3 linked regions of the Homo sapiens genome follow. The protein of the gene in region 1 purifies or fractionates together with the protein of each later gene. This does not show direct contact. Each region holds a gene or a part of one and is shown in the gene's direction. Other genes may lie near its edges. The genes, in order: LRRC41, FLYWCH2 and NSMCE1.

The links.
Region 2: the proteins of LRRC41 (region 1) and FLYWCH2 purify together in Homo sapiens (affinity purification with mass spectrometry; one large-scale study listed by BioGRID and IntAct). This does not show direct contact.
Region 3: the proteins of LRRC41 (region 1) and NSMCE1 purify together in Homo sapiens (affinity purification with mass spectrometry; one large-scale study listed by BioGRID and IntAct). This does not show direct contact.

Annotation. Positions count from the first base shown.
Region 1 is NC_000001.11:46,293,524-46,297,177, reverse strand, and holds part of LRRC41 (leucine-rich repeat-containing protein 41), read left to right. Parts: intron 1-3,654. UniProt on the Homo sapiens protein: Probable substrate recognition component of an ECS (Elongin BC-CUL2/5-SOCS-box protein) E3 ubiquitin ligase complex which mediates the ubiquitination and subsequent proteasomal degradation of target proteins.
Region 2 is NC_000016.10:2,889,667-2,893,320, forward strand, and holds part of FLYWCH2 (FLYWCH family member 2), read left to right. Parts: intron 1-3,654.
Region 3 is NC_000016.10:27,262,200-27,265,853, reverse strand, and holds part of NSMCE1 (non-structural maintenance of chromosomes element 1 homolog), read left to right. Parts: intron 1-3,654. UniProt on the Homo sapiens protein: RING-type zinc finger-containing E3 ubiquitin ligase that assembles with melanoma antigen protein (MAGE) to catalyze the direct transfer of ubiquitin from E2 ubiquitin-conjugating enzyme to a specific substrate.

The DNA of each region.
Region 1 (3,654 bases):
AGTAACAGCTTGTATAAAAAAGATTAAGGGAGTTTAGTCAACAATGTGTTGAAGCCACTTATAACGACTATACCTTGAGCTGTGTGAACTAATGTAAATATAGTATAGGCTGAAGGACAAGGTGGACAACAGTCCTGCCTAGCTCTGCAATGGTCAGGCTACCCGTGGAGATTGGAGAAAGTCAAAGCCACATTATGTGAGTCACATTGGGACAACTGGAGATGTTTTTCCTGAAAAAGAGAAGACTTGGGAAACATGACCCATCTTGAAATATATGAATGGCTGTCACATGAAGGAGGGATTAATAGACTTGTTCTGGATGGAAGCTAATGGAAGATACATTTTTGCTAACCTGAAGTTTACGTAAAGCTTAAACCCTGAGCTTATGAAACAAGCTAATTCTAGAGGTAATAAACTTCCCATCACTAAGTTCAAATGGAGTCTGTGTAACTCCTTGACACTAGGGTGTTCTGCAGGGGATTCAGCATTGTAAAAGGGGTTGCACAAGATGACTTTTAGAGCTCCTTTTAGACCTGAGATTCTATTATTCACTGATACAGATATAAATCACTGGAGCTCTCATTTAAGCAGTTTCTTTTGCTGCCCCATAACTAGGTGATGGGGTAGATTTAATTCAATAAACATTTACTGAAACTTAACCAGGTACCAGATCTTACACTAGATATTGGAAGAATAGATGCAGCCTCTAATCTTAAAGACCTAACAGTTTTGTTTTGTTTTGTTTTGTTTTGTTTTGTTTGAGACGGAGTTTTGCCCTTGTTGTCCACGCCGGAGTGCAATGGCGCAATCTTGGCTCACTGCAACCTCTGCCTCCCGGGTTCAAGCAATTCTCCTGCCTCAGCCTCCCAAGTAGCTGGGATTACAGGCATGCGCCACCACACCCAGCTAATTTTTTTGTATTTTTAATAGAGACAGGGTTTCTCCATGTTGGTCAGGCTGGTCTCGAACTCCTGACCTCAGTTGATCCACCCACCTCGGCCTCCAAAAGTGCTGGGATTACAGGCGTGAGCCACCTCGCCCGGCAAGGACCTACCAGTTTAATAGGGAAATCTACAAATAGATCACATATGATAGGATAAGTGGTGTAATAGAGGATAGTAAGAAGGTTGAGAGAGAAGAGAATAAGAAAGTCTTTCCTAGGAAGTAGTATTTGAACTGGGCCTTCTATGGTGAATGAGGCCAAATAACAGGTGGAAAAAAAGCTAATGTCAGGAATTGGAGATTTAATTTCTGGGGATGCACTGGGTTCAGTAACATTGAACCCCATCTCCTTCGGCTTATTCACTTCCAAATCTGGACTGCAACCCTTGGCGTTCAGAATGAGGACAACAGACCTTATGAGGAAGAGAAGCAGACTCAAGAATATTAGAAAACAGTAACTGCTTTTTGCTATCTTTAAGGAAACATCAGATTCACTTTGTTCCAGTATTTCACAAGCACTAGAGTTGACCAGCAAGTGATAAAGATTATATTTTTCTCTTGGAGAAAGCTTTCTGTCTTCTTGGCTCAAAGCATTTCAGAGCATTTAGAGGCCCCAGGCTTGGTGGCCCAACAGTCAGTTAGGCAGAGGTCCTAACTTGGAGCATGTCCATTCCAGAGGGTGTCTTTCCGCTTCCCACTTTTGCATGACAATAGCCTTCAGCTCATAAGTCACAAACAGTTATTCAGTGCCTGCTCAGTTCCATGCATTATGCTAGGTTCCAGGGATACAATGGTGAACAAGATAAATATAGAATGCTTATAAAGCAATAGTATTTCAAACTGTGTAGTACTGGGGTATATAAAGAGATCTGTAAGGTCAGGCACGGTGGCTCACACCTGTAATCTTAGCACTTTGGGAGGCTGAGGCAGGTGGATCACTTGAACCCAGGAGCTCAAGGCCAGCCTGGGCAACATGGCAAGACTTTGTCTCTACTAAAAATACAAAGAACTGGCTGGGCATGGTGGCACATGCCTGTAGTCCCAGATACTCGGGAGACCAAGGTAGGAGGATCACCTGAGCCTGGGAAGTCGAGGCTGCAGTGAGCCAAGATCGCACCACTGTACTCCAGCCTGGGCAACAGGAGAGAGACCCTGTCTCAAAAAACTAACAAATAAAAAAAGATCTGTATAATAGAATAGATACTCTGGAGAAAAAGCAATGAATAAATTAAGATTTACCCAATAAATTATTCTCTAGCAATTGGTTAGCTATTTGGAAAAAGTTAAGTTAGAGCCTCACTTTACAGTATACTCTAATGACTTTTGTATAAACAATAAATTGTGGCCGGGCACAGTGGCTCACACCTATAATGCCAGCACTTTGAGAGGCCAACGCGGGTGGATCACGAAATCAGGAGTTCAAGACCAGCCTGGCCAACATGGTGAAACCCTGTCTCTACTGAAAATACAAAAATTAGCTGGGCGTGGTGGCACGTGCCTTTAGTTCCAGCTACTCAAGAGGCTGAGGCAGGAGAATTGCTTGAACCCAGGAGGCAGAGGTTGCAGTGAGCCAAGATCACATCACTGCACTCCAGCCTGGGCAACAGAGCAAGACTCCGACTCAAAAAAAAAAAAAAAAAAAAGAATTAGTTGTAAAAAGTAAAGGCACAAGAGTCGGGTACAGTGACTGACATCTATAATCCCAGCTACTCCAGAGGCTGAAGTGAGAGGAATAGCTTGAGCCTAGGAGTTGGAGGCTGTGATCATGCCACTACATTCCAGCCTGGGGGACAGTGCAAAACCACGTCTCTTAAAAAAAGAAAGAAAGGGCTGGGCGCGGTAGCTCACACCTGTAATCCCAGCACTTTGGGAGGCCAAGGTGGGTGGATTGCTTGAGCTTACGAGTTTGAGACCAACCTGGGCAACATGGAGAAACCCCGTCTCTACAAAAAATAGAAAAATTATCCTGTTGTGGTGTTGTGCACCTGTAGTCCCAGCTACTCAGGAGGCTGAGGTGGGAGGGAGCCCAGGAGACAGAGGTTGCACTGAGCCGAGATCACACCATCGCACTCCAGCCTGGGCAATAGAGCCAGAACTTGTCTTAAAACAAAAACAACAAAAAAGTTTCAACACCAAAGAATAGAAAAAAATAATTTAAAAAAGAATAAAACCAACAGGCAGGTGTGGTGGCTCACACCTGTAATCCCAGCACTTTGGGAGGCTGAGGTGGGCAGATACTTGAGGTCAGGAGTTGAGACCAGCCTGGTGCATATGGTGAAACCCTGTCTCTACTGAAAATCAGGCATGGTAGTGCATGCCTGTAATCCCAGCTACTCTGGGATTACTACTTGGGAGGCTGAGGCAGAATTGCTTGAACCCAGGAGGCAGAGGTTAAAATGAGCCGAGATGGCACCACTGCACTCCAGCCTCGGTGACATAGTGAGACTCTGACTCAGAAAACAACAACAACAACAACAAAACAAAATAAAAATACAAAAATTAGCCGGGCGTGGTGGCACACACCTGTAATCCAAGCTCCTTGGGAGGCTGAGGCATGAGAATCACTTGAACCCAAGAGGCAGAGGTTGCAGTAAGACTAGATCGCTCCATTGCACTCCAGCCTGGGTGAGAGTGAGACTCTGTCTCCAAAAATAATAAAACCAATAAACAAAAAAAAGTAAAAGCACAAATCAGGCCGGGTGTGATGGCTCA
Region 2 (3,654 bases), on another chromosome or scaffold:
CTTTTTATTTTGGAATTATTTTAGCTTTATAGAAAAGTCCGAGAGGCAGTACAGAGTCCCTATAGATCTTCCCCACCCCCAGCTTCCCCTCATGTTAACATCTCATATAATAAATTATTGTTGGTACAAGACTACAGAACTGGGCACAGTGGCTCACACCTGTAATCAAGAACTTTGGGAGGCCAAGGCAAGCAAATCTCTTGAGGTCTGGAGTTCGAGACCAGTCTGGACGACATGGTGAAACCGTGTCTCTATTAAAAATACGATAATTAGCCAGGCGTAGTGGTGCGTGTCTGTAGTCTCAGCTACTTGGGAAGCTGAGGTGGGAGGATCACTTTGAGCCCATGAGTGTGAGGTTACAGTGAGCCATGGTTGTATCACTGCACTCCAAGCAATATACCAAGACCCTGTCTCTCAAAAAAAGAAAAAAGAAAACTAACCTATAGACTTTATTTGGATTTCATCAGTGTTTTCACTAATGCACTTTTTGTGTTCGGAGGTGTAATCTGGGATCTGATCCCACATTCATTTTTGTGTGCGTGTGTGTGTTTTTTTGTTTTTGTTTTTTTTTTTTTGTTTTTGTTGTTTTTTGGTTTTTTTGAGTTGGAGTCTCGCTCTGTTGCCCAGGCTGGAGTGCAGTGGTGAGATCTTGGCTCACTGCAACCTCTGCCTCCCAGGTTAAAGCAGTTCTTCTGTGTCTGCCTCCTGAGTAGCTGGGATTACTAGGTGCACAGCACCATGCCTGACTAATTTTTTTTTTTTTTTGAGACAACGTTCTGCTCTTGTTGCCCAGGCTGGAGTGCAGTGGCGCGATCTTGGCTCACCGCAATCTCCACCTTCTGATTTCAAGCGATTCTCCTGCCTCAGCCTCCCGAGTAGCTGGGATTACAGGCGCCTGCCACCACGCCCGGCCAATTTTTTTTTTTTTTTGTATTTTTAGTAGAGACGAGGTTTCACCGTGTTGGCCAGGTTGTCTCGAACTCCTGACCTTGTGATCCACCCGCCTCAGCCTCCCAAAGTGCTGGGATTACAGGCATGAGCCACTGCGCCCAGCCACGCCTGACTAATTTTTATATTTTTACTGGAGACGGAGTTTAGCCATGTTAGCCAGGCTGATCTTGACCTCTTGACCTAAAGTAATCCACCCACCTCAACCCCCCAGAGTTCTGGAATTACAAACGTCAGCCACCTCGCCCAGCCCAGATTGTCATCTTTGGAAATGCACTAAGCCCAGCCAACAATCAAGGGAGGGGACTTAAGCTCCATTTCCTGGAGGGGGAAGTGTCCGCACATACTGTTTAGAATTCCTCTTAAGGAAGATTTGTCCCTTCTCCAACATTTATGTATTCAGTTATTTGTATCAGCTTGGACTCATGGATATTTATTTTGTTATCTGGGTTATAATCCCGACCACTGGCTTCCAAGGCAGGACCTCAGCTCTGAGGATCAGTTTTCTTTGTAACTGGCATTTCTGACTTCAAGCATCTGCTGCCCAAGGCCATTGGCTCTGGACCAGGCCTCCATCTCCCCAGGGACAGAGTGGAGTGATGGGGACACTGGGAAGGGAGGTTGTTGGGTAGCAGTAATAGAGGTCATGGTTGACATAATAGGACTTTTTTTCCTGACTCAGGTCCCAGGTCAAGGACCAAGGATGTGGCTCTGGGCAGATCACTTCTGTGCCAGGCGCAGGCAGGAGGACCAGAGTGGCAGGGTTCTCTCTCTCTCTATTTTATTTTTATTTTATTTATTTTTTTTTGAGATGGAGTCTCGCCCTATCGCCCAGGCTGGAGTGCGGTGGCGCGATATCGGCTCACTGCAAGCTCCGCCTCCCGGGTTCACGCCATTCTCTTGCCTCAGCCTCCGGAGTAGCCGGGACTACAGGCGCCCGCCACCACGCCCGTCTAATTTTTTTGTATTTTTAGTAGAGATGGGGTTTCACCGTGTTAGCCAGGATGGTCTTGATCTCCTGACCTCGTGATCCACCCGCCTTGCCTCCCAAAGTGCTGGGATTATAGGCGTGAGCCACCGCGCCTGGCCTCTCTCTTTTATTTTATTTAATTTGTTTATTTTTTATAGTGATGAGGTCTCGCTATGTTGCCCAGGCTGGTCTCGAACTCCTGGGCTTAAGTGATCCTCCCGCCTTGCTCATGCTTCTGACCAGCCAGCTGCAATCTCAGGTTGCTATGACCCCTTCCTTGGGTTAAATCATTTCCTAGAGTGGCCCAAAGAACTCAAGGAAACAATGCCAGGCACGGTGGCTCATGCCTGTAATCCCAGCACTTTGGGAGGCTGAGGCGGGTGGATCACTTGAGGTTGGGAGTTCGAGACCAGCCTTGCCAACATGGTGAAACCCTGTCTCAACTGAAAATACAAAGATTAGCTGGGAGTAGTGGCCGGCGCTTGTAATCCCAGCTACTCGGGAGGCTGAGGCAGGAGAATTGCTTGAACCTGGGAGGTGGAGGTTGCAGTGAGCTGAGATTGCGACATTGCACTCCAGCCTGGGTGGGAAGAGCGAGACTTCATCTCAAAAAAACAAACTATTTACAGGCCAGGTGTGGTAGCTCATGCCTGTAATCCCAGCACTTTGGGAGGCTGAGGCGGGTGGATCACCTGAGGTCAGGAGTTCGAGACCAGCTTGGCCAACATGGTGAAACCCCATCTCCACTAAAAATACAAAAAATTAGCCGGGCATGGTGGTGCACACCAGTAATCCCAGCTACTTGTGAGTCTGAGACAGGAGAATATCTTCAACCCAGGAGGCAGAAGTTGCAGTGAGCCAAGATCACACCACTGCACTCCAGCCTGGGAGACAGAGCGAGACTCCATCTCAAAAAAAAAACACAATTTATCTACATTTACCATTTTATTATAAAGGAGACAGATGAAAATATAAATGCAGTCGGGCACAGTGGCTCATGCCTGTAATCCCAGCACTTTGGGAGGCTGAGGCGGGTGGATCACGAGGTCAACAGATCGAGACCATCCTGGCCAACATGGTGAAACCGCGTATCTACTAAAAATATAAAAATTAGGAGAGCATGGTGGCGTGTGCCTGTAGTCCCAGCTATGTGGGAGGCTGAGGCAGGAGGATCACTTGAACCCAGGAGGTGGAGGTTGCAGTGATCCGAGATCACGCCACTGCACTCCAGCCTGGCGACAGAACCAGATTCTGTCTCAAAAAATAACTAAAATTTATATATATTTTAAATATATATAATATATAATGTATATATGTCATATAATATATATTATATATGTCATATATATACCATATATGTTGTATATGTGTCATATATCGTATATAATATATATTATATATGTCACATATATACATATATTTTATTTATATATATACACACACACACACATATAAATGCAGCAGCACGTATGGGAGGGGCTCACTTTCCATTCCCACCCCACTCCCAACTCCCACACACCCGTCCAAGGACTCCATGTGTTCCTGGAAGCTCTCGGAACCCTCTCCTTTTGGGTTTTTATGGAGGCTTCATTACATAGGCATGATTGATTGAACTATAGGCCATTGGTGATCAACTTAACCTTCAGGCCCTCTCCCTTTCCTGGAGTTTGGAGGAGGGGCTGAAAGTCCCAACCCTCTAACCCTGCCTTGGTCTTTCTGGTGACCAGCCCCATTGA
Region 3 (3,654 bases), on another chromosome or scaffold:
TATTTCTAATGAATGAATGTATGCTTTTGCTGAGTTTTCGATTTTATGTAATAGGATCCTAAAATATATTTTGTGTGACTTGCTTGTTGCACTTAACATTATCTTTCTGAGAAGTATGCGTGTTGATGTGAGGAGCTCTACTTTGTCTTCATTGCTGATTTGAATTCTATGGGATGATTATATTGTTTTAATGTAGTTCTTCAGTTGGTAGGCATTTATACTGTTGCCAGACTTTTGTTATTACAAGGTGCTTCTGTAAAAACATATCTCCTAGGGCAAATGTGGAAGTTTCTGTAAGGTATATACCTAATAGTAGATTTCGGGGGATATGCAAATTTGCTAGTAATATCAACTGTTATCTGAAATGGTTACAATAATTTATACTCAGCCTGGAGTGGTGGCTCACACCTGTAATCCCAGCACTTTGGGAGGCTGAGGTGGGTGGATCGCTTGAGTCCAGGAGTATGAGACCAGCTGGGGCAACAGGTGAGACCCCATCTCTACAAAAAATACAGAAATTAGCCGGGCATAGTGGTGTGTGCCTGTAGTCATAGCTGCTAGGGGGTTCTGAGGTCAGAGGATCGATTGAGCCCACAAGGTCAAGGCTGCAGTGAGCTATGACTGTGTCACTTCATTCCAGCCTGGGCAACAGAGTGAGACCCTGTCTCAAAAAAAAAAAAAAAAAAAAAAAAGGAAAAGAATTTATACTCTCCCAGCAGCAGATGAAAGTTTCAGCCTCAGCCATTCTTTTAAAATTTTTGCCTGTCTGGTGGTGGCTAAGACATTCCTTCACTGTGGTTTTCATAATCATTTGTCTGATAACATTGAGATTGAGCATCTTTTTTCTGTATTTATTCATCATTTATGCATCCTCTTTTTGTAAAATTTCTGTTGCCCATTTCTCTTTTACAGTTGTGTTTCCCATGCTGATTTGTAGGAATTCCTTATATAGTCTGAATATGAATCTTTTGTATTTTGTAGCTTATGTTTGTTTTAAATGCCCTCCAGTTTGTATCCCCTAACCCCCACCTTTCTGGTATTTTTGGTGAATAGAGGCCCTTAATTTTAACAAAAGTCAAGTTTATCAGTATATTCCTTTATGACCTGTACTTTTTATATCTCTTAAAGAAATCCTTCCCTACCCTTAGGTGATAAATATATTCTCTATATTGCCTAAAAGTCTTACAGTATTTTTCCTTATTATGACCTTATCCCTTCAGAATTGATGTTTGTATATAGTATGAGGTAAGAATCAAATTTTATTCATTTTTTTACATATGGATAACAAGTTTTCCTGGCACCTTTTATTGGAAAGTTTGCTTTCATCCGCCATCAAGTATCCATATATGTATACCTTTCCGTTTCTGAGTTCTCTGTTCTGTTCCATTGATTGGTCTTATTTGTCTATCTCTGTACCATTACCACACTGTACTCGTTACTCTAGCTTTATAAGAAGTGCTTTTTTTGTTTTGGTTTGTTTTTAGACAGGATCTTACTCTGTCATCCTGGCTGGAATGCAGTGGTGCAATCATGACTCACTGTAGCCTCGACATCCCGAGCTGAAGCAGTCCTCCCACCTCAGTATCATGAGTACCTGGGACTACAGGTGCATACCATCATGCCCAGCGATTTTTTTTTTAATTTTTGTTTTTAGTAGAGACAAGGTTTCACCACATTGCCCAGGCTGGTGTTGAACTCTTGGGCTCAAGCAATCTGCCCACGTCAGCCTCCCAAAGTGCTGGGATTACAGGCATGAGCCATCGCGCCCAGCAAATATGAGAAGTCTTTATAGCTGGTAGGACAAGTCCTTCTGCCTTTATTTTCTCCCAGGAATGTCTTTGCTGTTTTGCCTTTGTGTTTTCTATGTAAATTTTTAGAATCATCTTGTCAAATCACACACACACATACACAAAGCCTCTTGGGATGCTGACTGTAATAGCATTGATTCAATTGCATTGGGTCAATTTGGTTTTTAAAGTGATTGCTGCCAACATTTCATTTTTCAGTATGATGTTTGCTGCAGGTTTTTTGTAGACGTCACTTAGTAGATAAAAGATGTTTTCTTCGATTCCAAATTTGTTTTTGGTGTAGGTACATGTTGAATTTTATCAATTGTATATTCTGCATCATTAAGATGATCATATGCTTTTTTAAAAAAACTTAGGTTTGGCAGCACACGTGAAGGTTTATTAGATAGGTAAACTCACGTCATAGGGGTTTGTTGTACAGCTTTTTTAATCAGCCAAGAATTAAGTCCAGTACCCGATAGTTATATTTTCTGCTCTTCTTCCTCCTCCCACCCTCCATCCTCAAATAGACCCCAGTGTCTGTTGTTTCCTTCCTTGTGTTCATAAGTTTTCATCATTTAACTCCCACTTATAAGTGAGAACATGTGGTATTTGGTTTTCTATTCCTGTGTTAGCTTGCAGAGGATAATAGTCTCCAGTTTCATCCATGTTCCTGCAAAAGACATCATCTCATTCTTCTTTATGGCTGCATAGTGTTCCACGGTGTATAGGTACCACATTTTCTTTATCCAGTCTGTCATTGATGGGCATTTAGGTTGATTCCATGTCTTTGCTTCTGTGAATGGGGCTGCAGTGAACATTCCCGTGCATGTGTCTTTATGGTAGAATATTTCTGTTCCTCTGGTATATACCCAGGAATGGGGTTGCTGGGTCAAATGGTAGTTCTGCTTTTAGCTCTTTGAGGAATTGCCACACTGCTTTCTACAGTGGTTTAACTAATTTACACTCCCTCCAACAGTATATAAGTTTCCCTTTTCTCTGCAACCTTGCCAGCATCTGTTATTTTTTGACATTTTGATAATAGCCATTCTGACTGATGTGAGATGGTATCTCATTGTGGTTTTGATTTGCATTTCTCTAATGATCAGTGATACTGAGCTTTTTTTTCATATGCTTGTTGACCACATGTATGTCTTCTTTTTGAAAAATGTTGGTTCATGTCCTTTGCCCAGTTTTTAATGGGGTTGTTTGATTTTCTCTCGTAAATAGTTTGCAAATATTTTCTCCCATTCTGTAGGTTGTCTGTTTACTCTGTTGATAGTTTCTTTTGCTGTGCAGAAGCTCTTAAGTTTAATTAGATCTCATTTGTCAATTTCTGCTTTCATTGTGATTGCTTTTGGTGTCTTTGTCGTGAGATCTTTGCCCGTTCCTGTGTCCAGGATGGTATTGCCTAGGTTGTCTTCCAGGGATTTTATAGTTTTAGGTCTTACATTTAAGTCTTTAATCCATCTTGAATTGATTCCTGTATGTGCTGTAAGGAAGGGGTCCAGCCTCAGTCTTCACATATGGCTAGCCACTTATACTAGCACCATTTATTGAATAGGGAGTCTTTTTCCCATTGCTTCTTTTTGTCATCTTTGTCAAGGATCAGGTGGTCATAGGTGTATGGCCTTAATTTTGGGCTCTCTATTCTGTTCCATTGGTGTATGTGCCTGTTTCTGTACCAGCACCATGCTGTTTAGCCCTGTAGTGTAGTTTGAAGTCGGGTAACGTGATGCCTCCAGCTTTGTTCTTTTTGCTTAGGATTGCTTTCGCTATTCAGGCTCTGTTTTGGTTCCATGTGATTTTTTTTTTTTTTTTTTGAGATGAAGTCTCACTCTGTTGCTCAGGCTGGAGTGCAATGGCG